Linked DNA regions of Homo sapiens. The protein of the gene in region 6 purifies or fractionates together with the protein of the main gene of each other region. This does not show direct contact. Each region holds a gene or a part of one and is shown on either strand. Other genes may lie near its edges.

The links.
Region 1: the proteins of OR52B2 (region 6) and NDE1 purify together in Homo sapiens (affinity purification with mass spectrometry; one large-scale study listed by BioGRID and IntAct). This does not show direct contact.
Region 2: the proteins of OR52B2 (region 6) and PCCA purify together in Homo sapiens (affinity purification with mass spectrometry; one large-scale study listed by BioGRID and IntAct). This does not show direct contact.
Region 3: the proteins of OR52B2 (region 6) and KDM3B purify together in Homo sapiens (affinity purification with mass spectrometry; one large-scale study listed by BioGRID and IntAct). This does not show direct contact.
Region 4: the proteins of OR52B2 (region 6) and FAM81A purify together in Homo sapiens (affinity purification with mass spectrometry; one large-scale study listed by BioGRID and IntAct). This does not show direct contact.
Region 5: the proteins of OR52B2 (region 6) and ZNF709 purify together in Homo sapiens (affinity purification with mass spectrometry; one large-scale study listed by BioGRID and IntAct). This does not show direct contact.
Region 7: the proteins of OR52B2 (region 6) and ZNF852 purify together in Homo sapiens (affinity purification with mass spectrometry; one large-scale study listed by BioGRID and IntAct). This does not show direct contact.

What each region holds. Positions count from the first base shown.
Region 1 is NC_000016.10:15,691,745-15,695,244, forward strand, and holds part of NDE1 (nuclear distribution protein nudE homolog 1), read left to right. Parts: intron 1-65; coding exon of another isoform or gene 66-124; exon of another isoform or gene 125-422; intron 423-2,420; coding exon 2,421-2,512; intron 2,513-3,500. UniProt on the Homo sapiens protein: Required for centrosome duplication and formation and function of the mitotic spindle. Essential for the development of the cerebral cortex.
Region 2 is NC_000013.11:100,305,593-100,309,092, reverse strand, and holds part of PCCA (propionyl-CoA carboxylase alpha chain, mitochondrial isoform a precursor), read right to left. Parts: intron 3,343-3,500; exon of another isoform or gene 3,259-3,342; intron 1,902-3,258; coding exon 1,833-1,901; intron 1-1,832. UniProt on the Homo sapiens protein: This is one of the 2 subunits of the biotin-dependent propionyl-CoA carboxylase (PCC), a mitochondrial enzyme involved in the catabolism of odd chain fatty acids, branched-chain amino acids isoleucine, threonine, methionine, and valine and other metabolites.
Region 3 is NC_000005.10:138,422,185-138,425,684, reverse strand, and holds part of KDM3B (lysine-specific demethylase 3B), read right to left. Parts: intron 1,611-3,500; coding exon 1,344-1,610; intron 275-1,343; coding exon 103-274; intron 1-102. UniProt on the Homo sapiens protein: Histone demethylase that specifically demethylates 'Lys-9' of histone H3, thereby playing a central role in histone code. Demethylation of Lys residue generates formaldehyde and succinate. May have tumor suppressor activity.
Region 4 is NC_000015.10:59,437,022-59,440,985, reverse strand, and holds the start of FAM81A (protein FAM81A), read right to left. Parts: upstream 2,801-3,964; 5' UTR 2,704-2,800; exon of another isoform or gene 2,356-2,703; intron 2,331-2,355; exon of another isoform or gene 1,922-2,330; intron 1,032-1,921; exon of another isoform or gene 863-1,031; intron 1-862.
Region 5 is NC_000019.10:12,482,017-12,486,157, forward strand, and holds the start of ZNF709 (zinc finger protein 709), read right to left. Parts: upstream 2,801-4,141; 5' UTR 2,642-2,800; coding exon 2,639-2,641; intron 1-2,638.
Region 6 is NC_000011.10:6,168,855-6,171,602, reverse strand, and holds OR52B2 (olfactory receptor 52B2), read left to right. Parts: upstream 1-1,276; coding exon 1,277-2,248; downstream 2,249-2,748. UniProt on the Homo sapiens protein: Odorant receptor.
Region 7 is NC_000003.12:44,507,818-44,511,776, forward strand, and holds the start of ZNF852 (zinc finger protein 852), read right to left. Parts: upstream 2,801-3,959; 5' UTR 2,736-2,800; intron 1-2,735. UniProt on the Homo sapiens protein: May be involved in transcriptional regulation.

The DNA.
Region 1 (3,500 bases), on a different chromosome or scaffold from region 6:
ATTCTCCCACCTCATCCTCCGGAGTAGCTGGGACTAAAGGCACCTGGCTAACTTTTGTATTTTAGGTGGAGACACAGTCTTGCCATGTCGCCCAGGCTGGTATCAAATTCCTGGACTCAAGTGATCCGCCCACCTCGGCTGATCCCAAAGTGCTGGGATTACAGGTGTGAGCCACCGCGCCTGGTCAAAAATCCTCTTGTTGAATATAAAACCTCCCAAATTTGAAATGTCACTGACCAAATACAAAAAAGTAAAAAGCGTTCTGTGGGTTTAGTAATACATCCACCGAGAGCTAGACTCAGCGTAACGTGTGCTGCATGGGCAGAAAAAAAGAATCTCAGTTCTCACCCCAGCCCCTCTGCTGACAGCTTCCGATCAGGCCTTTTACAGCAGATATTAATAACAGACAGTTAAGGAGTGCTCAGTGTGTGCTGGCCAGCCTGCAGCCTTCGCCGCAGGCCCAGGATGCAGGTGCTGTCCCCGTTTGATGAAAGTGAGGCTCTGAGTTAAGCAGAGTCATGAAGCAATTGAATGGCAGATGGTTTGGGATTCAGACCCAGGCAGGCAGGCTCCAGGGCTTACCCTACCATCTACTACCTTATCCCTTAGCTTGTCCCCTGGGCATGAAGAGACCAGTGAGACTTCTAGAATTCCGGTGCAGAGCCCTTCTGTTTAGTTTTGTTGAGATGGAGTTTTGCTCTGTTGCCCAGGCTGGAGTGCAATGGTGCGATATTGGCTCGCTGTAACCCCCTCCTCCCAGGTTCAAGTGATTCTCCTGCCTCAGCCTCCTGAGTAAGCTTGAATTACAGGTGCCCACCACCATGCCTGGCTAATCTTGTATTTTTAGTAGAGATGGGGTTTCACCATGTTGGCCGGGCTGGTCTCAAACTACTGACCTCAGGTGATCTGCCTGCCTCAGCCCCTGAAAGTGGTGGTATTACATGTATGAGTCACTGTGCCTAGCCCCAGTCTAGAGCCATTTTGCATACTTTATTTCATTGTTGTTTTTAGAGACACAGTCTTGGTCTGTGGCCCAGGCTGGAGTGCAGTGGTGCAATCATAGCTCACTGCAGCCTCCAACTCCTGGGCTCCAGTGATCCTCCTGCCTCAGCCTCCTGAGTAGCTGGGACTAGAGGCATGCAACTCCATGCCTGGCTATGTTTCCACACTTCAATATGCATGTAGCTTACCTGGGGATCTTGGTAGAATGTACCTCAGATCAAGTGGGTCTTGGGTGGGGCCTGAAATTTCTTTCTCTCTTTTTTTTTTTTTTTGAGACAAAGTCTTGCTCTGTCGGCCAGGCTGGAGTGCAGCGGCATTGATCTTGGCTCACTGCAGCCTCTGCCTCCTGGATTCAAGCGATTCTCATGCCTCAGCCTCCCGAGTAGCTGGGATTACAGGCAGGCACCTGTTACCATGCCCAGCTAATTTTGTATTTTTAGTAGAAACAAGATTTTGCCATGTTGGCCAGGCTGGTCTTGAACTCCTGACCTCAACTGATCGAACTGCCTCGGCCTCTGAAAGCACTGGGATTACAGGTGTGAGCTACTGTGCCTGGCCGAGAGATTCTGCATTTCTAACAGTTCTCATGTGCTGCTGGTGCATGGACCCCACTTGGAGAAGAGAGGCTCTGCAGAGCGGGACCCTTGTAAAGCTGGATCATCCTGTCTATAGTTCTTGTATCTATCACAGATGCCATTATGTTAATTAACTATATGGATTTTCTACAATTTCAAAAGGATTTGTTTTGGGTTTGTTTAAAAAGACTAATGTGGCTGGGCACGGTGGCTCATGCCTGTAAATACCAGCCCTTTGGGCGGCCAAGGTGGGAGGATCGCTTGAAACTAGGAGTTCATGATCAGCCTGGGCAACATAGTGAGACCCTGTCTCTATTAAAAAAAAAATTTGTTAAAGGCCAGGCATGGTGGCTCACGCCCGTAATCCCAGCACTTTTGGAGGCCAAGGCGGGCAGATCATTTGAGGTCAAGAGTTCGAGACCAGCCTGGACAACGTGATGGAACTCTGTCTCTACTAAAAATACAAAAATTAGCCGGGTGTGGTGGCACATGGCTATAATCCCAGCTACTCAAGAGGCCAAGGCAGGAGAATCGCTTGAACCTGGGAGGCGGAGGTTGCAGTGAGCTGAGATCACATCACCGCACTCCAGTCCGGGTGACAGAGCAAGACTAACATGTAAAAATAAGTATTTGTTGCAGTCATCACAAGGACTTGAAAAATTGGTTGTCATACGGGCCTTGGGTGTGTGATGCGGTTAACTACGGAAAGAAATAGGGTAGCTTTTGGGATCCGAGGAAAGGCGTCAGTGTCCCTCCTGTCCCGTGGTTTTGGATCTAGCGATGTTAACGCACAGACATGACTATAGGTTGGTGAGTTACATGCTCTTCCCTTTGCACACCCAGGCCTGGACGACTCCACCGGGGGGACCCCCCTCACACCTGCGGCCCGGATATCAGCCCTCAACATTGTGGGAGACCTACTGCGGAAAGTCGGGGTAAGACCACACTTTCCTGGCGTTTGGTGCCTTCCTGCCTGTCTTTCAGGATGTGTGAAGGGGGTTGATCTAGTTCCTTCCCTCTCTTCTTTTTTTCTTTTTTTTTAGAGACAGGGTCTTGCTCTGTTGCTCAGGCTGGAGTGTAGTGGTATGATCACAACTCACTGCAGCCTCAAAATCCTGGGTTCAAGCGATCCTCTCACCTTAGCTTCCCGAGGAGCTTGGACCACAGGTGTGCGCCACTATGCCTGGCTGATACTTTCATTTTTTTGTAGTAATGTGGGTATCGCTGTGTTGCCCAGGCTGGTCTTAAACTCCTGGCCTCAAGTGATCCTCCCAGGTTGGCCTCCCAAAGTTCTGGGATTACAGGCATGAGCCAATGCGTCCAGCCCCTTTCATAGCAGTGTGGTGAGTTTTAGGTGTGGCTGCTCCTTTAGCATCCCTGGGAATCATTAGAGCTTCCTGTGGGAGTTACTGCCAGACACTCAGAGCTCTGACTCGAAGCCCTGCTCTGAACCCTATGTATGTCTCTTTCCTTTTACCGTTTTTCCTCTAGGAAATTTGGGAAATTAGGGTGATATGTGTGTTTTTTCCTTAACTCGAAAAATTAAGGAGCACTTGGAAACTGCCTTCTCTTTTGGCCGGGTGCTCATACCTGTAATCCCAGTGCTTTGGGAGGCCAAGGTGGGAGATTACTTGAGCTCAGGAGTCTGACACCAGCCCGGGCAACATGGTGAAACCCCCTGCCCCGACTTGGCCTCTACAAGAATGCAAAAATTAGCCAGGCCTGATGGTGTACACTGGTGGTCCCAGCTACTCAGGAGGCTGAGAGGTGGGAGGATTGCTTCAGCCTGGGAGGTTGAGGCTGAGTGAGCTGAGATTCCAACACTGCACTCCATCCTGGGTGACAGCACGACGTTGTCTCAGAAGAGAAAAAAACTGCCACCTTTTTTTTTTTTTTTTTTTTTTTTGGTTTGTTTCTTGGGGT
Region 2 (3,500 bases), on a different chromosome or scaffold from region 6:
CAAAAAAAGTAAAGTTTCAAAAATAAAAGTATAAAGAAAGAAGACGACTATCTTAGAAATCATTTGCAGTTTTACATATAATATACACAGAAGCAAATGGTACTTTTTCAGAAATCAAAAAAACAGAAAAGTCTTACTATTCTACATGATTTAGTGCCTACTTATATGTATCTCTATAATTTGGCAATGAAATAAGACCTTAACTATTCATTAAAGATTTTTCTGGCAGTTATATTAGCCAATCTATAGATTGTGATTATTTTAGTAGGTTTTACTAGCTCTTCAATATCAAGCAAATTTGAAAATTAATTTGTAGGCCATTTTTCTGAAGAGAAAAACATTCATCTAAAAATGGAATATTTAAAAATCAACGTATAATATTTTTACATAGTTTTATTTTTAAATTAAATGGTGGTTCTCTAATAAACAAAAGACCTAAATTTTATTTTAATACTACTAATAACTTAGGCCAACCACGGTGGCTCACGTTTGTAATCCCAGCACTTTGAGAGGCCGAGGCGGGTGGATTGCTTGAGCTCAGGTATTCGAGATCAGCCTGGGTAACATGAGGAAGCCCCATTTCTACAAAAGATATAAAAAAATAGCCCTGCATGGTAGTACACACCTGTAGTCCCAGCTACTTGGGTGGCTAAGGCAGGTGGATCGCTTGAGCCTGGGAGGTCAAGGCTGCACTGAGCCAAGATCATGATACTGCACTCCAGCCTGGGTGAAAAAGGGAGACCCTATCCCAAAAAAAAGCACTAAAACCCTAACTGAAGAAAGACAGATAAAAAAGTGTTTGTTTACTGCAACTATAACATTAAAAAGGACACTTGGGGAAAAGCCATCTTGAGAAACAAGGCTTGAAAAACAAATCATTCCTCAATACAGATGTATCATTTCAGAGAACACAGAATTTTCAAAATAAAATCCACAATCTGGCCGGCCATTGTGGCTCACGCCTGTAATCCCAGAACTTTGGGAGGCCGAGGCGGGCGGATCACGAGGTCAGGAGATGGAGACCATCCTGGCTAACAAGGTGAAACCCCATCTCTACTAAAAACAAAAAAAATTAGCTGGGCTTGGTGGCACGAGCCACCCAGCTACTCAGGAGGCTGAGGCAGGAGAATCGCTTGAACCTGGGAGGCGGAGGTTGCAGTGAGCCAAGATCGTGCCACTGCACTCCAGGCTGGCGGACAGAGCGAGACTCCATCTCAAAAAAATAATAATAAAATAAAAATAAAATCCACAATCTTAATTATTACAGCATTTTACACTTTATACGGTTTTAAGGGTTTAAAGATCCAAAAATTCAATTCATTTATTCTGGAAAGTCAAACTTCAAAAAGACAGGTGGGCAAAACAAATCTTATACTCTTACATCACATCTACTTAAATAATTGGTAATTTGTAAAAACTGAAGAGAAAAGATCAAAAAGTACTCTAACAAACACTGCCTATCAGCCCAACTCTTGCCATTCATTCATACTTCCATCTCAGGTAATTTCTGCCAATGGCCAAAAAAAACCTTAATTCCTTCTCATGGCAATGAGTTAGGCTGGCACCACTGGTTAGATGTTTATTATTATTATTGTTCATGCATGTGTGTGATGGTGTGGCATGATTTAGTTGGGGAGGAGGAGTACTACAAACTAACATAACGCTGAATTTTCTCTCAAGAGAAAAAACCTGCTCTGCTTTCACATTTACATCAGTGCATAATTAGTTGTTTAATTATAGCTTATGATTCAGATAAAGGCCCAGTTTCAGACTCTTTAAATATCATTGATTTTTCGAAGAAATCAAATAATCCATTGAGAAATTAAACTAACTTTTGAAATCATAGGATCATAATAAATGCTAATATCACTTCCTGGTTGGATGCCACTGTCCACTCGGACCTGGGAGAAAAAAAGAAAAAAAGAAAAGTAATTCATATTGTGTAGATATTTTTTTGTAACCACCAATTTCATTTCCATGGAGAAAATGGATAGAGAATTTCAATCTCAAATAACATTTCAACTTCTGGAAAATAGGAAAACAATCTAAAATCTTGATCCGTTAATATGTAATGCAACACATTTTTTGTTCTGCCACTGAATGACGAAACTAAAAAACAGCAAAAATAAAAAATAAAAAATGAAGACTTCCTACATCACTATGCCAGGATGCTGTGGCTCTCTGATGGTGTCTTCCAGCTGAAGCATGGCATGGACGATGCCCTTGCTAACTGCACTCCCTGCCAGACCCTTCTGAGCCCACCAGTGAGGCCCCTCGTCAAGCCTGGTCCTCAGCTCCATAGGAATGTGGGCCTGGGCCTTTCATGTCTGTAACACTTTCCTTTTCTGCCTCACCCTCTCAACTGTAAAACACTATTTTTCTGTTACTGTTGCTCCCCTGAGGCTTTCATGTTTACACAGCTTTTCCTATGGCTTTGCTTTGTAAAGCCCCAATTAGAGTTCTGATTTTGTGATTTTCTTGGGGTGGGGGGTAGGGGGATAGCACAAGTTCAAAATATTCTTTTGAAGAGGCTGATTGCTGTTAACCAGCCAACGAGTGAGTTAGTACATCACTGATTCTTGTTTTCATTTCCCAGTTTGATACCAGCAGCAAGGCACGGAGGTTAGCCATGCAAAACTTTAAAAATGAGCAGTTACTGAGGACAGAACATTTATTAAATTATTAGAAAGAAGTTTTGGAATCTGAAGTATTTAAAAGCTAATCAAAATACTTCAGACTGTCAGGCACATCCTAGGGGTCTTGAGGATGGAGGAACTGAATCAAAGCTGCTGGAACAGCAGGACTTTGATGCCCAACATTGTAAAGGGGTGGGAAGAGAAGAGCGGAAGCTCACGTAGCCTTCCACCTGTGGGAAGAAGCCTTCCTAATAAACAGCAGCTCATCTGTCTGCAGCAAGGCAGAAAAAGGTCAACACAGCGGCTGTTAGGCCTTTAATATTTTAATTTAGGCAATTATCAAGGGACCACATGTAGAACCTCTTGTCTAGGATATCCACATGAGGGTATAATGATGGCTTTATTATACGGTGACATCAGAAGACAAGCGATAGTTTCATTTTCTTAAAATTCACACTACTATTATTCTCTTTGTAAGGTTGTAAAAGGAACACTATAACATACCTGAAGGGCTTTTATTTCTGTATTTGCAAGCACAAACAAAAATATAGATATCTGTATTCGTATTCACATTCATATACAAAAATCTTAATTATAAACAAAAATCATTCAGCACACTTACGAAATATACTTGGCTTTCTATTTTCTGAAAACATATTTCAGGACATAAACTGATGTTCTATGAAATTCACAGTGTTGACAAAAACTAGAAAAAAATTAATGGAGCAGCTTTAAAAGCAATAAAATCACAATCTACCTTTTCCCCACATTAAAGAGCCCCAAAATGGCAACTAGTAAACGGGTTACATAACAGAAAATATATCTGTGAGTTTTCATTTTCTTAATTTTAGTACTAAAAAGTGA
Region 3 (3,500 bases), on a different chromosome or scaffold from region 6:
ATTATGCCCCAGAATATAATTTATTATTCAAGGGCAGAGCTGGGCGTATAGATGCTTATTTTCCAGTCTGCTATCACTGAACTAGATATGAAAGCTACTTACTGCATATGATCTCGAAACCATCCCAGAAATCCCGAACTTTCACATCGGAAATTATAGCACAGTTCCTGCAGTTCACCAAGTCTACATCCTGGTCTCCAAATTCCTGGCTAAAGGCTTCTGGCTTCCAGAGCTCAGACTTGAGCTTTTTATGTACCCCCGAAACCAGCACTGGCTGTGGAAACAAAAATATCCCAATCAGAGCAATCTAGGAAAAACTTCCAGCTCTAGGGCTGAGACAGAATAGGAGGGTTTCCTGAGGAGGGCCTCCTCTTCTCCAGGAAGCTCTACTGTTCTTTCCTAGTTGTATAATCCATGGATTTCCACATGTCAACTAAAGTGAAAGGAAATGCTTCTACTCCATTGTTATGCTTCATTCTCACCCTGGGGAAATCACTTCTGTTGCCCTAATACCTACCATTGTTTTAAGGTGAAAGGACAAAAATCTGACAAGTCCAACTTTGAGAACACTTCCTCATATTGAAAATGACAATGCCATGAGCTCCCCTTCCTCAAGCACCTGCTAAAGTTTTTAAACTAGGGAGTGTTATCACACTATCAAAAAACTTGTGTGGCCTTAAAACATTTGCCTAGAAAAGTACTACCTACCTCCAACCCCTTCTCTGCCCCATCTTAAAATCACACTTAAGGATTTTTCTCTAAAGATATCAATGCCAGATCACCACCTAACAGAAATTTCAACTGCCTTTTTAAGAACACAGAACTATACAGCTTAGAAACAAGAGGATGCAAAGTGTGTTTTTAGTAATCTCCTTGCTTTTATTTATTTATTATTTATTTATTTTTGAGGTGGAATCTTGCTCTGTAGCCCAGGCTGGAATGTAGTGGTATGATCTTGGCTCACCGCACCCTCTGCTTCCCGGGTAAAGTGATTCTCCTGCCTCACCCTCTCAAGCAGCTGGGATTACAGGCACCCACCACCATGCCCAGCTAATTTTTTTTGTATTTTTAGTAGAGACAGGATTTCACCATGTTGGCCAAACTCCTGACCTCAGATGATGCGCCTGCCTTGGCCTCCCAAAGTGCTGAGATTACAGGCGTGAGCTATAGTGCCTGGCCATCTCCTTGCTTTTAAAAATCCAAGACAACTCGAAGTAGCAAGGCTATTACAATAACCTCACTATGTCTAAATCTCCCTGGCAAAAAGAGAGACCTGGAATTGTCCAGGTATCTGTGGTAGGCAGGCAGAGAATTGGCCCTTGGAACGACTTATTCTTGCTTACCTGACCTTGCTTCCAACACTCCCGGAAGATCTTCCAATTGTTTTTGTTGCTGGGGTCATGGAGACACAGAAGCCTCCCATCACAAAGCCAGGAGTGAGAAGTATGGGGATCTAGCACATTTAACCCCATCACCATCTCCTTCACTTCCTTCTGGGTATCAGTCAAGTTGCAGGCCCGCTTTGAAGCATCTGAGGTTTTCTTATTTTCTACCACTGAGGCAATGATGTGGTCAAGAAAGTTGGGTAGGCTGGCCTTGCTCTTCACTCCCTGCCAGACACAAATCCACCAGGTAAGCTTGACTGAGGCACCATGAGAACGGCATTCAAAAAACTGTCTCACAATTGTATTCACAAGGAGTTCTGACCTGTCTGATTAAATTCTACAAAAATTATTAAAATGTCTTTTACAACTGGAAGGGGGATAATAAGTCAACATCTTAAATTCTTTTATCCTTCATATTTTACCTTAACATTTAGGAAAGAAAAGTATAGAAAGATCCCTTTTGCCTCGAGAGATCTGAGACCTAAGAAATACCTTTGGCATCAGCCATTCAGTATACAAAGCACACATGCATGTAGACTGTAGGGATCATCAAATGCTGTAACTGAGTGTAAAAAGGTCACTCAGTTTGAGGGTTCTAAATTTTTCCTAACCAGCATGCCCAAGGGATACAATACTTCAATTAAGTAACTGAAGTGACTTATCAAGGCAATGGTTTTCTACCAGGGAGTACCTCAATGAAGGGTGTAGCAGAGTGTCCAAGAGGAAGTACATTCTGAAAGCAGTCTCCTACTCTCCAATTTTTTCCTCACTACCATCCCACTGAGAATCACTCACCTGTTTCAGCTGATGGGAAAGCTCAGGCCCAGAGATGAAAGTGACATACCTAAGGTCACAGAACTGAAGGTAGGGAAGCTTTTATAAACTGGATAATCCTATGCTTACAGTATTACTAATCCCTATCTCTATAAAGTATGTATAATTATGTAACATCATGGGAGAATTAGAAAAAGAACTGGCAGTATGATGAACAAGTATACATAAAACGGTACCCAAAGTAATTGTTTTGTTTGCTTTTTAAAATTTACTTATCCAGGCTGGGCACGGTGGCTCATGCCTGTTAATCCCAGCACTTTGGGAGGCCAAGGCAGGTGGATTACCTGAGGTCAGGAGTTCGAGACCAGCCTGGCCAACATGGTGGCCAACCCTGTCTCTACTAAAAATACAAAAATTATCCCAGTGTGGTGGCACGTGCCTGTAGTCCCAGCTACTTGCTCGGGAGGCTAAGGCAGGAGATTTGCTTGAACCTGGGAAGTGGAGGCTGCAGTGAGCTGAGATCGTGCCACTGCACTCCAGCTTGGGCAACAGAGTGAGACTGTCTCAAAAAAAAAAGTTACTTATCCAAAAGAGAAACAAATAACCCAAATTGTATAGAGGGCTCAGTCACCCACAGTTCATCACGTTTCAGCCATTAGTCATAAAACCCAAGAAGAAATGTATTTATGTATTCGCTTGAAATGATTTGCAGGACATATAAACTAAAAATCAGAATAGCAAGGTGTAGAACATTTAGGGGAAAAACATACATATGATAATATCTCGAGAAACACTGGAGACTTCTAGAAAGGGAAACAGGTGGTTGGGAGGCAAGGGTGCAAAGGAAACTTTTCAGTCGAAACCTTTTTTATTTTATTTATTTTTTTGAGATGGATCTCCCTCTGTCACCCAGGCTGGAGTGCGGTGGTGCGATCTTGGCTCACTGCAACTTCTGCCTCCCAGGTTCAGGCGATTCTCCTGCCTCAACCTCCCGAGTAGCTGGGATTATAAGCATGTGCCATCATGCCTGGCTAATTTTTGTAGTTTTTTAGAAAGAGTCAGGATTTTGCTACGTTGGTCAGGTTAGTCTCGAACTCCTGACCTCAAGTGATCTGTCCGCCTCAGCCTCCCAAAGTGCTGGGATTACAGGTGTGAGCCACTGTGCCCAGCCTCTTTTCTATCTTTTAGATATTGTACCTTATGAATTCATTCATTCAATAAATGCTTACTAAACATGACTGGATCAAACACCATGGCACTAGGGATATATTATAGAACAGTCAAAAATGCCTTTAGGAGAGGCAAGAAACAGAAAATCAAACATGTAATAGGTCAGATGGT
Region 4 (3,964 bases), on a different chromosome or scaffold from region 6:
TAGAGCCAACGTAAATTTTCAATGGAACCTGTCCAAAGGTCTTTGTGACTTCCTCCTAGATAATGTGGCAGGCTGGGAGAAGAATAAGCAGGCAAGCGGGGGTGATTTTGGATTGAGGACTGAAATATAAGAAGCCCAACACATTGAAACAAAGGATTCTGGGATCCCAGACAGAATGGAAATGGCCAGCAACTTACATGCCCCAAGTGGAGAAACAGAGTCACAGAGGGGCTGAAGGATTGGAACAGCAAGTGCTTAAGGGACCAGGGTCCTCAGCGATGGTTAAAATCCAGAGCAGTATGTGGGTAGTATCAGCTAAGTAGGCTGAAGTCCGAGTTCAAGATCTCAAAGGTTTAGTCTTGTTCAAGACTGAACAAGTCCAAGATGTTAGTTGAAGCAAAGTGGAAACTGAGGCTACTGGGATAGATGTTGAGGAACTTCAAGGTCAAAGAATTAAGAGAGCTTCAACACAAAACCCAAAGTCACTGGCAAGAGACAAAGCAGAGAAGAGAATGAAGCTGGCTGCTCACGTTTTTTGTTTGTTTATCCCTTTTTTGGGGCATCAAGTGAAGAGATCCCCACTGTACCTGGGTGTACATCAGAATTGCCCAGAGAGTTCTGTTCCTTCTCTTCATCGTCTCCTGCTGCTCCTCCTTTTGGGGTTTGTTTTTAAAGTAGGGATTTTTAGGTCTTACTCCCCCACCCTGCCCCAGCCCCCAATGATTCTAATTTGGTATATCTGAGAGAGTCTAAAGACCAAGTTTTTCAAAATGTCCCAGGTGATTCTGAGGAGCCCCCAGGTTTGGGAAGCACTGGACCAGAAGATAAGAAGGAGGGTAGGGGCACAAGCAGATAGCACTACCTTCCGAGAGGAGACTTGGTTGGTGATGGTGCATTGGTTTGGAGGCAGCACTAAGGAGAAGCGGAAGAGCATCCCTACTCTGGTGAGACGGTGGAGGACACTAGAGAAGGCTCTTCTGCGGCAAGTTGTTCACTCAGGCTCTGGTGCTCGGGAGAGAAGGTGGGTTCAGCTACATAAAAAATGAAAATGCAAGAGTGTGGCTGCAGGATACAAGAAACAAGACATTTAAAGCCAGGTCGGAGTGACACAGCCTAGTGGCCTGCAGAGAGAGGAGGCTGAATAATGCGCTAATAACGTTTCCAAGCACCATGTAGTGTGGCTCATTAAATGGTTGGTAGGGCTTCATGGTTGAATTCCTGGACACTAAGTATTTTTCTATCCGTATGCTATCAGATTTCTAACATGTAACACATTAAAGGTTATTAAGCCCTCAGGTAAACAAGCTTGCAGAAGCTTATTCATTAGCATTGGAAACTGTGTCTTCCCAACCCACGTTCTTATACAGATGAAATCAGATTCGAATGAAAATCAAGGGTAGCTTTAAGTAGAAAGTCAGAAGGGGCAACCAGGGGTACCTGTGAGAGGGTACGTCCTCCATTCCCCTCCGTGGAAGAGGGAAGTTTATAGACAGTGGATATGGAAGGGGGCCTAAGTGTCCTTTTTAGTACCAGTCAACGCTAAAAATATTATAAGTGCCAAGGAACCCGCCCCCCCCAACACACACACACACACATACACACACGCGCATTCAGTGACAGGGCCCAGAAGGCAGATACAATGTGCAAATCTGGGGATGGTTCTCAATAAAGAATATATTTACTCTACAAACCTCTTATTTTAAAAGCAAGTTGCAAATGTTTGCCCTTGCTTCTGAGAGAGCTGCACTTTTGTGGATTCGAATCATTCTAGCATTATTTCTGGTTACTCCTATGAAATAATTTCCAACACTGCCGTACGCAGACTTTGAGCTGAGGACGAGAGCGCACGCGCACACACGCACACACACACACGCGCGCACACACACACATAAACCTCGTGCACATTGAAGAAATGACTCACTTAATTTGCTGCTGCCTGCCACGATTGGGTTTTGATTTTACCTGTTCAAATACAAAGTTTCCTATTAGATTAACTACAGGAAAGAAGAACTTAGGAGCATTAATCCTGATTTTGTTCATGTCTTTAGGGCACCAAAGAGGTTTTAACCTGTGCATCTTAAGAAGCCATTCTCCGGACCACCGACTGCTTGCTCCATAATCTTCCAGACAACGATAACATTTCTTACCACTTTAGGAGCCAATTAATGGAAACCCCTCCTAGAATAAACATGGTTAAGCTTTGCATCTCCGGTACCTGCAGAACCGTACTTTAGGGCTCTTTCTCAGCTCGCAGTAGGATGGCACAACAGCATTCTGGAACTGCAAAGACCCCCTAGCCTCTCGTTTGAAAGATGAGAAAAAGCGAAGGGGCGGAAGAGCAGATGGTTAACCTACCCAAGGTCACTCACTCTGAGTAGTGGGTCGGCTGACTCGCCTTTACCCCTGGCAATCCGTGCACCACCCCAGCTCCCCCAAACAGTCCCTCCGGGCGTCGGTTGGTTCGCTAGCATGCAGCCCCCGCGAAAATGCAACGCCAGTTGCGCTCTGTGCCCAACTTCAGCCCTTCGCGTCACATGCAGTTAACCCTCTCGCCCGCGGCATGTCACATGGGCCACGCGCAGCTCTCTCTACCCCACGCCTATCTCCTGAGAGGCTGCCCCAAGGTCACCGGCCGTCCCAGAGAGCTCCCGCCGCCCAGCCCCAGAGGCCGCCCGGCCGGGGTTCCCAGAGCGCGGCACTCACCGGCGCGGGGGGTGGGCGCGCCGCGGCTGCCCATGTCCTCGCCGGCGCGGCTGGGTGCGGCGGCCGCTGGCGCTGGCTGAGCAGGGCGCCCGGCTGCGGGCCCGCGCCGCGGGGAGCGCCGTCCAATCAGCGCGCGCCTGCCGCCTGGCCCGGCGCGCGGCCCGGCCGGGTTCGCGGCTCCCGGGGGGCGCGAGCCGCCGCGCGCCGCCGGAGCCGCTTCCGGGCGCGTTGCCTGGACGCGGTTGCCGTGGCAGCCCGAGCTGGAGGCTTTCCCCGCGCACCCGCGCCCAGCCTGGCGGCGCCGCCCCTCCTCCCTCCTCGTTCCCACACCCAAAATAGCCTCTGCTCGTCGCTGCTGTTTCCCACAGAGCTCGCATCCAAGCGCCTTGGAGTTGGCGGGCGGGGATTTCGCTCATTGGAAAATAAATCCTGTTGTAGGGATGGTTGATTTGGAGAGGTGTTGAAATGGTGCCTGACGGAGATCATAGCCATGGTGGTGGCACTGCAATTCTCTCTAGAGCCCCAATATACCTTATTTACTAAACCGCTTTCCCACAAAAATAGTTCTCTCCCCCGCCCCACCTCAAATTGGGGAGAAGTTATTTGATTAGGCCACGGTGACGCCCCACCTGTGCAGGTGAACGAACCCTCCGGGGCTGCCATGTGTCATTTACTGAATCGCCTTGACACCTGCAGTTGGGACCCAGGATCGTGTCTCATCGCAGCAGACACGACGAGAAGAAGAACCCCGAACACCCCTCCTCTTCCCAGCCCTTTCTTCTCCCGTCAGCTTCATCCCCTCCCAGCGCGTCCTGGCTCTTTCCACCTTCCTCTCGATTTTGGATTCTCATCAGGACGCACAAGCCCATTCACTCATAATTGTGCTTCCTCTCGGTGGGCAGGATTTCAGCGGAGTTGCGGGGGACACGACCTTTGCCTCATCTGGTTCGTGCCTCCTTCGCAGATACTGGTACTTACCCAGCACAGGGGCTCCTGTCTGTCTCCCCCACCCCGCCCCAGCCTGAGCCCTTCCAACCCAGGGGAAGGAGCCCGACATGGTAGAAGAGCCCGAACTGTGGATTCGGCTGAGCGGTTTTGGAATTCTCTCTCCGGCAGCATTATTATTTAGGGGCTATTAGTATTAAGGACTGTTATTTGTGTGTGATCTTTGAAATATTTGTGGGTATTCTGCGACTGTTTCCTCACCAGTAAAACGGGCTAATAACTTCCACAAAGCGCTAACGCATCTGTAACATTCATT
Region 5 (4,141 bases), on a different chromosome or scaffold from region 6:
GGAAAGGAAAGCCAAGCCACATCTGTAATCCCAGCACTTTGAGAGGCCAAGGTGGGAGGACTGTTTGAGGCCAGCAGTTTGAGACCAGCCTGGCCAACAAAGTGAGAACCCACCTCTAAAATACACACACACACACACAAACACACACACACACACACACACACACACGCTCCCTCTCCCTCTCCCTCTCTCTCTCCCTCTCCCTCTCAAGTCAGCTCAGACTAGCAGACTGCTTCTCCACAATTCAGAAGGAAAACCCACACTCAGAAAGCTAAACACATACACAAGCTTGGGGCCCACATTCTTGCTGTTGGGCAACAACCTTTAGAGTGAGACAGTCCCTGGTGACAGAGGGCAGGGGCACCTGAGGAGCCAAAGGAATGAACTCAGCGAGCTCCACACATTCCCTCACCCCTGGTGACAGGGAAATCGCCCCTTCAATTGTTGTAAGTGAGGAAACTCTCAACTGGACTGAGATTAAGGTTCTGACCCAAATGAACTCCCCAGTTCATTCATCCTGTGTCCAGGAGACAGATCTCCTGGCCTTTACAGACTTTCTCACTATAGAAAAATTACACTGAGTGCACCTACACAACAGATGCAAAACTCAAACCTAATGTCTAAAAATAGGCCCAAGGAAACCACAATTATGCCCTCAGGAAGGGCATCACTGGATTCAGCCAATCCCCCAACGTGCATTCAGATCCCCAGCTTTCCAGTGCTCAGCAGCTTCTCTCAGTACAAAGGGCTCCTTCCACAGTAGGTATGAGCAGGTAGGACACCTGCAGGGGAGGCTCCCTAGGAAGAAACAACTGGGCCTTCGATTACATCCCTTGGGAGACCCAAGGGTTGGTCTTAGAGCTTGGAGTCACTGACCTGAGTCCTCTTTGCTCTCCAGTCAAGTGACCTGGACCACTACTGATATTTACATGAGACAAACCCTGTGTTTGAAGAAATCAAAGGGGAGGCTGAGGCAGGTGGATAACCTGAGCCCAGAATGGAATTCCATTTGAAATCACCGAAAAGGAAAGAACAGACCTGAGGAACTTGCTATACATTCTCAGAAGAAAAAAAGAGAAACAAAAATTTTTAATAAATGCAATATCATACTGGGATATTTCATTATTATTATTTTCTGTTTTTGAGACAAGGTGTGAGACCTTGCTCAGCCTGGAGTGCAGTGGCATGATCAAGGCTCAAAGCAGCCTCAACTTCCCAGGCTCAAGCAATCCTCCCGCCTCGGCCTCCCAAGTAGCTGGGACTACAAGTGCAGGCCATTACGCCCAGCTAATTTTTTTTTTTTTTTTTTTTTTTTCTAGTAGAGATGAGGTCTCTCTATGTCACCTAGGCTGGTCTTGAACTCCTGAGCTCAAGCGATCCTCCTGACTCAGCCTCCCAAAGTGCTGAGATTACAGGCGTGAGCCAACGCTCCTAGCTTGATATTTTATTATTTTCTGAAACCCATCTCTTTCTTGCCTCTTTGGAAATATTTTACATCCACTCTAAAGGTTTATTTTATTTTATTTTTTTATTTTTTTGAGACAGAGTCTCACTCTGTCGCCGAGGCTGTAGTGCAGTGGCGCAATCTCATCTCAACTGCAACCTCTGCCTCCCGGGTTCAAGTGATTCTCCTGCCTCAGCCTCCTGAGTAGCCGTGATTACAGATGTGCACCACCACGCCCGGCTAATTTTTTATATTTTTAGTAGAGACGGGGTTTCGCCATGTTGGCTGGGCTGTAGGTCTCCTAATTACGTATATTTTACATTTTTTGAGAATCAATTAAGTGAGTAAATCTTTTCAAGGTGATAAGCCCAGGGAGGGGAAGTGCTGCGCTGGAAAGGACAGATCTCCCAGAAAAGTTTCCAAAAAGGAGACTCAACCCAAAGGAGTTCCCATAGGATGTCAGGTCCCAGGAGAGATACTGGCAAGAGAGGCACAAGCATTTTACACGAGGTAGCTTCAAGTCCTTCTCCTCTGTTTTCCTCTCATATAAATACCCCAAAGCATACGTTAAATCTTTTTAAAAGAACCATCCATTCCTCTGTACAAAAAGGATAATTAAAATACTGCGTCTGGTTGAAATAACGACGTTGTGAACTGGAGAGAAGACATTGGCATTTGAAAGAGATCTAGAAATTTAGGGATTTAATCCCAGCTCTGGGAAGAGCCAGGCTGGAGGACACGGTCGTGGGTTTGAGATCTGGCTTCCCATACACTTGGAAACCTTGAGAAACGAGTCCTCCCTTGGGAAGAAAAGAGGGACTGAGGACCCCACACAACACTGCTCCTCCCACGCACGAACCCCACGACCGAGACGGGATTCCCTCCATGACCCTCCCGTGCCCCAGCACAATCTGGGGAGACGCGAGGCTGCGGGCTCGGAGCTGCCCAGAGAGGGCTCCGGGACTGGGGCCGCAGTCGCCGCGCAGGGACTTGACAAGACGTCCGGGGTCCCGGCTGCCGGCCCAGCCCCATCCTGCGGCCAAAGAGACCGAGGGCCGAGCTGCGCCAGGAGGACTCGGGTCCACAGACCCGGGAGACAACGGCGGGGAGGCCTGGGTCCCACCACAGCCAGATCCGGCCGGTTTCAACCCGCCCCTCTCTCCCATCTCAAGACCCCCAGCCCCGCACACTTACCATTTCCCAGACTCTGGGATGTCCTGGTGTTCTGTTTACCTCTCCCGCGGCCAGCACAGGTCCTACCTCCACCTGAGGCCCTTCCTCCACCTGAGGGCCTTCTGGGGTGAGGAGACCCCAGAGCGGAGCGCAGCGGCTGGTAGCCACGCCCTCGCCGTTTGCGCAGCGCCCCTCCGCCCGCCTTCCCGGCGGCGCCCCTGATTGGACATTGCACTCTTGGACCCGCCTTCGTTGCCTGAGTGACAGCTAGTAGGGAAGTCGCGTCTCTAAGCAACCTGCATTCGTCCGGGGTCAGGAATCTGTTCCCCTGCCACGGATATTTGCGTCTAAGCAGAATTTGTTAACGTACCCGGGGTCGGGCACTGGTGTCTTCCTGCAGCTCCTTCTGAGCGCGGAGACACAAGCGTGCACAGCGCAGGAAATTCCAGGCTCAGTTTCCAGAAAAAGGCTCTTTGTCCACAGCGAAAAAGGACGCCCGGGCCATGCCAGACTAGAACGGAAGGGTCAGACGCTCCCAGACTTAGCATAAGGCTGCGAGGCCATTCATGGATTTCTGACTCTTGTTTACAAATACAGACACTTAGAGTGACAGAGTGACCTCATCATACCTAACAAAGAGTGACTACGTTTTAATCTTTGACAACTGACAGGGTTTAGGCCGTCACCCATCCCTTCCCTCCCCCCACACTTTGCTCTAGTGGGAAGTTTGGACCCCACAGCCCTAGTCTGAGAGAAGGAGTTCCTTTTTTTTTTTTTTTCGGTAGAGATGGCGGTGGTGGGGTGGTCTCACTATGTTGCACAGGCTAGTCTCGAACTCCTGGGCTCAGGTGATGCTCCTTGGCTTCCCAAAGTGTTGGGATTACAGGCATGAACCACCGTGCCCAGTGAGGAATTATTCAGTTAAACCCAAAGCCATGAGATGTGTTCAGTAAAACTGAACACTGGAAGGATATTTATTTCGGACCAGTTTTTGACTATGTCCCTAGAGAACTTTTGTGGATCCTTTATGTTTGTTTGGTTTGTGGTTTTTGTTTTTGAGACAGGGCCCTTCTTTGTCCCTCAGGCTGGAATGCAGTGGTGCAATCAGAGCCCCCTGCAGCCTCGACCTTCTGGGCTCAAGCAATCCTCCCACCTCAGCCACCTGAGTAGCTGGAACCTCAGGCACGTGCCACCATGCTTGACTAATTTCTTTCTTTCTTTTTATTTTTATTTTGTAGAAACAGCATCTCACTATCTCACCCAGGCTGATCTTGAACTCCTGGGCTCAAGTGATCTGCTGGCCTCAGCCTCCCAAAGTGTTAGGATTACAGGCATGAGCCACTGCACCCAGCCCCTAGAGAATTTTGAAATGTAAATGGCTATGATATCGATAAGGCAATTAATTCCATTTTCACTGAGATTATTTAAAAAACCACAAAAGATTATGTAAATTTGGCATGTACTAGGAAACTCAATATACTTAAGATATTGGATCAAACCTACTAATGGGCAGGGCATGATGGC
Region 6 (2,748 bases):
CAGAGGGATGGACTAATAAACTGAGGATTTGATTCCTTTGCATCTCTTCTTTGGGGCCCTCTGAATACCATTATCAGAAGATCAGTCTAGTGTTTATTTGGTACCTTTATAGTTCTGATTCTCTCTTTACTGTCTCTGTGGTCCCTTTTCTTCATGTTCCCTTCTAGATTCTTAATCATACACTCTTTCCCTAGTCCTAATAGCTGACAGATAGTTCAGAACTTCAGAATGAAACAAATATTACCTGAGTGGCAGGCAAGCCAAGAAGGGCTCTATACTTAATCCTTCTTGGCAGCAGGGAAACATGGTTCCTTCTGAGCGTTGGGGAACAGTGGGGTGGGAAGAAGGGCAGTATTAGTGGAGTCAGCAGAGTTTACAGGTGGGCAATAGATTGATTTCTTTTGCTCAGAATCGTTTTCCTGGGGGGCTTCTACAGATAAGGAAGCCCAGACATAACCAAGAGGCTCCTGTATAGAAATATTTGAGGAGGAGCATGAGAAGTCCATGAGGAGCTGGTGATGAAAATTGCCTGTCTCAGTTTCATTGGCTGCCCCATTGCTCACTGCATTAGGGAAGATATGAATCTGGATCAGAGTGGAGAAATGTACCCCTCTAGGCTTCCTCTGGATTCCCACTTGATACTCTACTCCCTTGCACAAGGGGCCAGAGGTGCAAGTGTCCTGTGAAATGTTCAAGGCAATAGCCAGATAAACTTAATAGGATTAAATATAACCCAGTTAAAATATAGTTTAGTTAATAGTTTTTTAGGAAGGAGATATATTGCTATGAACACAGACCATTACAAAGTGGTATGTCTTGAGGACTTATTTTAAGGTTAAAATTTTGTTAAACAGAAGTAGAAGGGGAGGGAAATTAAAGGTAAATGCAGAACAAAATCTTGGGGAAAGGGACAAGTACAACACAGGTAGGTGGAAAATGCTGCTTGTGTGGAAATAGTAGAATGAGGTCAGAAAGGGAGAGTGAGGCCAAACTCTGGGGGCAGGGTGGTTGCAGGAAGGTGCTGCCACTTCTGTTCATACTTGAAGCATTATTGCCACAGAAGCTCTATCTGCAAAGGAAGCACTATGGGCCAGAAGCCATTCCTATACCAAGTGAACATTCTCTGGGAGTACTTGCTGCTGGAGAGTCCAGCAATTTAGAAATCCATGCTGTCTTTTATGATATTTATACATATTCGGGAGTGCTTTCTGTTTCTATCACTTTCAGTAGACTCATCAGCTTCTAAGTCATTATAGAGAGGACCATAAAGTGCATCATGAGTCACACCAATGTTACCATCTTCCATCCTGCAGTTTTTGTCCTTCCTGGCATCCCTGGGTTGGAGGCTTATCACATTTGGCTGTCAATACCTCTTTGCCTCATTTACATCACTGCAGTCCTGGGAAACAGCATCCTGATAGTGGTTATTGTCATGGAACGTAACCTTCATGTGCCCATGTATTTCTTCCTCTCAATGCTGGCCGTCATGGACATCCTGCTGTCTACCACCACTGTGCCCAAGGCCCTAGCCATCTTTTGGCTTCAAGCACATAACATTGCTTTTGATGCCTGTGTCACCCAAGGCTTCTTTGTCCATATGATGTTTGTGGGGGAGTCAGCTATCCTGTTAGCCATGGCCTTTGATCGCTTTGTGGCCATTTGTGCCCCACTGAGATATACAACAGTGCTAACATGGCCTGTTGTGGGGAGGATTGCTCTGGCCGTCATCACCCGAAGCTTCTGCATCATCTTCCCAGTCATATTCTTGCTGAAGCGGCTGCCCTTCTGCCTAACCAACATTGTTCCTCACTCCTACTGTGAGCATATTGGAGTGGCTCGTTTAGCCTGTGCTGACATCACTGTTAACATTTGGTATGGCTTCTCAGTGCCCATTGTCATGGTCATCTTGGATGTTATCCTCATCGCTGTGTCTTACTCACTGATCCTCCGAGCAGTGTTTCGTTTGCCCTCCCAGGATGCTCGGCACAAGGCCCTCAGCACTTGTGGCTCCCACCTCTGTGTCATCCTTATGTTTTATGTTCCATCCTTCTTTACCTTATTGACCCATCATTTTGGGCGTAATATTCCTCAACATGTCCATATCTTGCTGGCCAATCTTTATGTGGCAGTGCCACCAATGCTGAACCCCATTGTCTATGGTGTGAAGACTAAGCAGATACGTGAGGGTGTAGCCCACCGGTTCTTTGACATCAAGACTTGGTGCTGTACCTCCCCTCTGGGCTCATGAATCTTCATGTCCAGCTCCTTCAAGGAAGCTAGATGTGAAATACAGAGATTTCCTGGACTGAGAAGGCTTTTCTTCCTCTTCTTTCTATTTCATCTTCCGCCCCCAACTTTTCTTTCTTTTCTCATAATTCTTCCTCCTTCTCTTGTTTGTTTTCTCTAACCTCTTTACATATTCCTCCCTACAACCCAGAAATAATAACTAAGTGTACATGCCTCTGATATGAGGCTTTGGTACCCTCAGTAGACTAGATAGACGCCAGAAGCGCAGGGATCTGAACACCACATGAAATGAGGTTATAAAGAAGTGGATAAAAATAATTTTATATTTACCATTTTAAGGGGTTTTAATTTTTTAAAAAAATCCCAAATGTGCATTGATTCTTTGTACAGAATCAAGTGGCCTGCCACCCACTACCACAATGGCAGGTGAGTTTGAGGAACAGCCATGCATGACCTTTGGTCATCTGGAAAAACTTCCTTTCCTTCAAATTTTAGTTCAAG
Region 7 (3,959 bases), on a different chromosome or scaffold from region 6:
CAGCTGTGCTTGCTTAGAGAGAAAAAGGCTAAATATCAGTAACCACAAAGGAGAACTTAGCTCAGCAGTGCTACCCAGGCCTGAATCCTTGCTTCATTACCATATTAAAATCTCCACCTAGAAGGGAGAAATACACTTGCTAGGCACATATAGTGCTGGGTACAAAAGAAACAATGAGACTGGCCAGGCGCGGTGGCTCACGTCTGTAATCCCAGCACTTTGGGAGGCCAAGGCGGGTGGATCACCTGAGGTCAGGAGTTCAAGACCCTCCTGACCAACATGGAGAAACCCCGTCTCTATTAAAAATACTAAATTAGCCAGGCATGTGGTACATGCCTGTAATCCCAGCTATTTGGGGGGCTGAGACAGGAGAACTGCTTGAACCTGGGAGGCGGAGGTTGCGGTGAGCCAAGATCAAGCCATTGCACTCCAGCCTGGGCAACAAGAGCAAAACTCCATCGCAAAAGAAAAAAAAAGAAAGAAAGAAAGAAAAAAGAATGAGACTGAGCACACTCCAGTTCTTCCCATAGGGCCCCACCTCTTTCCAGGATCTCTGCCCCACTACATGCCCTAAGAGACCTTAAAAATCCCTCTTCACCACACCCAGAGGAGGGTACTTTGAGCATGAGCTTTTCCTTCTCCATTCCTTCATCAACAAATAAAGTTTCTGCACTGCTTAACGAAACTTGGTCTCATTTTATTGGCATGAACACCACCAGGCAGGTAAAGGACCCACTGAAGTCAAACGACTTCCCTTGAGAGTTGGTAACAGTAGCATTACAAGTCAGTGGGAAAAATTAAACTAGTCAATGAATTGTGTTGGGACAATTGGCTAGGCAAATAAAAATAGTAAGTAAAATCACACAAAAAATAAAGAAACTTAAAAAACAAAGCTAAAAGGCTGGGTGCGGTGGCTCACGCCTGTAATCCCAGCTCTTTGGGAGGCCAAGGTGGGTGGATCACAAGGTCAGGAGTTCAAGACCAACCTAACCAAGATGGTGAAATCCCATCTCTACTTTAAAAAAAAAAAAAGCCAGATGTGGTGGCAGGCGCCTGTAATCTCAGATACTCGGGAGGCTGAGGCAGAGAATTGCTTGAACCCAGGAGGCAGAGGCTGCAGTGATCCAAGATTGTGCCACTGCACTCCAGCCTGGGTGACACAGAGTGAGACTCTGTCTCAAAAAAAAAAAAGAAAAAAACCATAAAGACTCTAAGAACCCTGGTGTAACCAAGAATTTCTTAAGACAACAAAATGAAAAGAGTGAATATATTTGAATACATCAATATGAAAAAAATCTCTGTCCAAAAGAAAAGCAAAAGAAAAAAACACCAAACACAAACCACTAATAGATGTGGAAATGTAATAGCCAACAGGAAGGATAGTTTGAAAGTCCACAGTAAAACTAAAAAGACATATTCCTTACGCTACAGGAATTTAACTTGTAAGAATCTGCCCTGAAAAACACTTGCACGGGTATTCAGACATTTACACAGGTATTTACTAAAATATTCTCTGTAATAACATAATACTGGATTTAACCTACTTGTCCATCAATATGGCTAAATAAAAGTAGCATTTTTATAGGATGAAATACCATACAGCACCTAAAAGGAACATACTAGATCCTTATGCATCACCATGACTGTTCCACTATTCACCAGGTGGCCAGGCTGTGCTGCCAAGATTAAAAGGCCATCCAAGGAAGGGATAGCACATGATTTGAGGTCGCTGAGGACAGATACCAACCACATCAGGCCCCAAGAGGTACAGCGTATACTTACAGCAAAAGGAGAAACAGGGAACAAGATCCAGCCTCCTGCAATGCAAAGAGCCCCCACACCCAGCAGATCCACTCCACAGCTATAGGGCTGGTGTGATGCACACACCCCACTTAGTAAGGAAGAAAGATCTCAATCCACCCTCCCCACTCCTATGGGGTGTGAAATACAGAAGGCTGAGAGAATGAATGAAGGCCACTGACTTAAGAGATTAAACACAACAAAGGAGTACACATGAAGCCTGAAACACTGAAAGACACAAGGCATTAAATGCAGCAGCACAGGCTGTGAGGGCTCTAACTCTGCAAGGAAATGTTCCAGGCTCAAGGTCACTCTTACATTCTTAACTTGGCAATGGGCTATTTAAAAAAAAAAAAAAGACATTAAAAACTGTCAATTCTTCTTGTCTCCCAGTTTAGATATTCCTTCTTTCATTAATTTAACAAACACCTTCTAGGAGCACCTACTATTTCCCATACACTAAGGTAACAGCAGTTAATAAAGCAAACAGAAAGCACTGCCCTGGCAAGGGGCTTATGGGAAGATAACCAATAAACAAATACATGCTATGTTAGACGGCGACAGGTGCCAGGAAGTGAAATAAGACAAGAAAAAGGGAGAAGTCTATGCCAGATGTTTTCAATGTCAGGAGACCTGGAGACTAAGATTTCCGGACGGTGGCTACTTTCACTTTTCTTCCACTTATCTAATTGTCTCTAATAAGTACGCTTTATTCGCATAATTGGGTGAAAAGATAAAGCCAGAAGAAACCGGGAATTTTCCAGATTCTCTGCCCCAGACGCCCGGGGGGCGAAGAGGTATGCCCTCGGCGCGGCCGGGCGGGATCCACGGCCAGACCCCCGCCCCGGGTGCAGCCTCCAGGCCCGGCCTCACCTGCCACTCTCGCACGCACAGCCGCCCCCGCTCCGCACCCCGCGCCCCGCCGGGCCGCTCACCGACTCCGCCGCCGAGAGACAATCATCCAAACGCCGCCACCGCAGCCGACCGCCCCGCGCCTACCTCCCAGCTTCCCCAGTTGCGCACGCGCGTCGCCTCCCCGGGCCCTCTGCGGCCTCTCTAGGAAACTGGGAGGGCCAACATCTCTGCTTCTCCCTGGGCCCAGGGCCGCTGGCGGCGGGCGGCGGGCGGCGGGCGGCGGGCGGCGGGCGGCGGGCGGCGGGGCTTGTCCAGCATCCTTCGCCTCCTTCCGCGGACACTTGTCTTCCACGCTCTGATGCCCAGGCGCGCTCCAGAACTCTATCGGCTTTGGCGTATTATCCTACATCCCTCCCATCGGTTCTGCACGGCTGCCCTGGAGGCCTCTTTTCCTTCAGGGAAGAAAGGGATCCAAAGCTAGCGGTGAAAATAGAGCCAGCGGCCTGGCGCGGTGGCTCACGCCTGTAATCCCAGAACTTTGGGAAGCCGAGGTGGGCGGATCACGAGGTCAGGAGATCGGTGGCTAACACGGTGAAACCCCGTGTCTACTAAAAATAAAAAAAAAGTAGCTGGGTGTGGTGGCGCGGCGCCTGTAATCGCAGCTACTTCGGCGGCTGAGGCAGGAGAATCGTTTGAACCTGGGAGGCGGAGGTTGCAGTGAGCCGAGATCGTGCCACTGCACTCCAGCCTGGGAGACAGAGCCAGACTCCGTCTCAAAAAACAAACAAACAAAAAAATAGGGCCAGCACATCCCCAAACATAAAACCCTTGAATGGAGAAATTCCCAAACAAGGCAATAAGCCCAGCACTGGCCGTGAGAGTTTATTATCCCCTTTTAAGTAAATGCTACAAGCCCTAGGCGCACTTTTGCAACTGTTCAAGGGTCATCAGGCTGCACATGACTGACCAAGACACTCAGTTGCCCACTTTGGATGGAGCTACAGCTTTGTGGGAAAAACAGATAATAGAAATTACACAAATACATCAATGTCAAGTGGTTACGAACACTGTTGAAATGTAACAGAGTTATTTAATTGACAGCGACTGATGATAATGCTTGTATTTTTTCTGGTACTTTTCTGTATACTTCCGGTAGCTCATAACACACTGGCTGCCATGCATTGATTTGAGTTGCCCAAGGAAATAGAGTCAGTAACTGGAATAGCCACTGAATCCAAATCTTTTGGTCTTTTCACTACTGTGCTTCATAAAAGCTCTCCCGTCCCACGTCCCTGTAGAGGGAG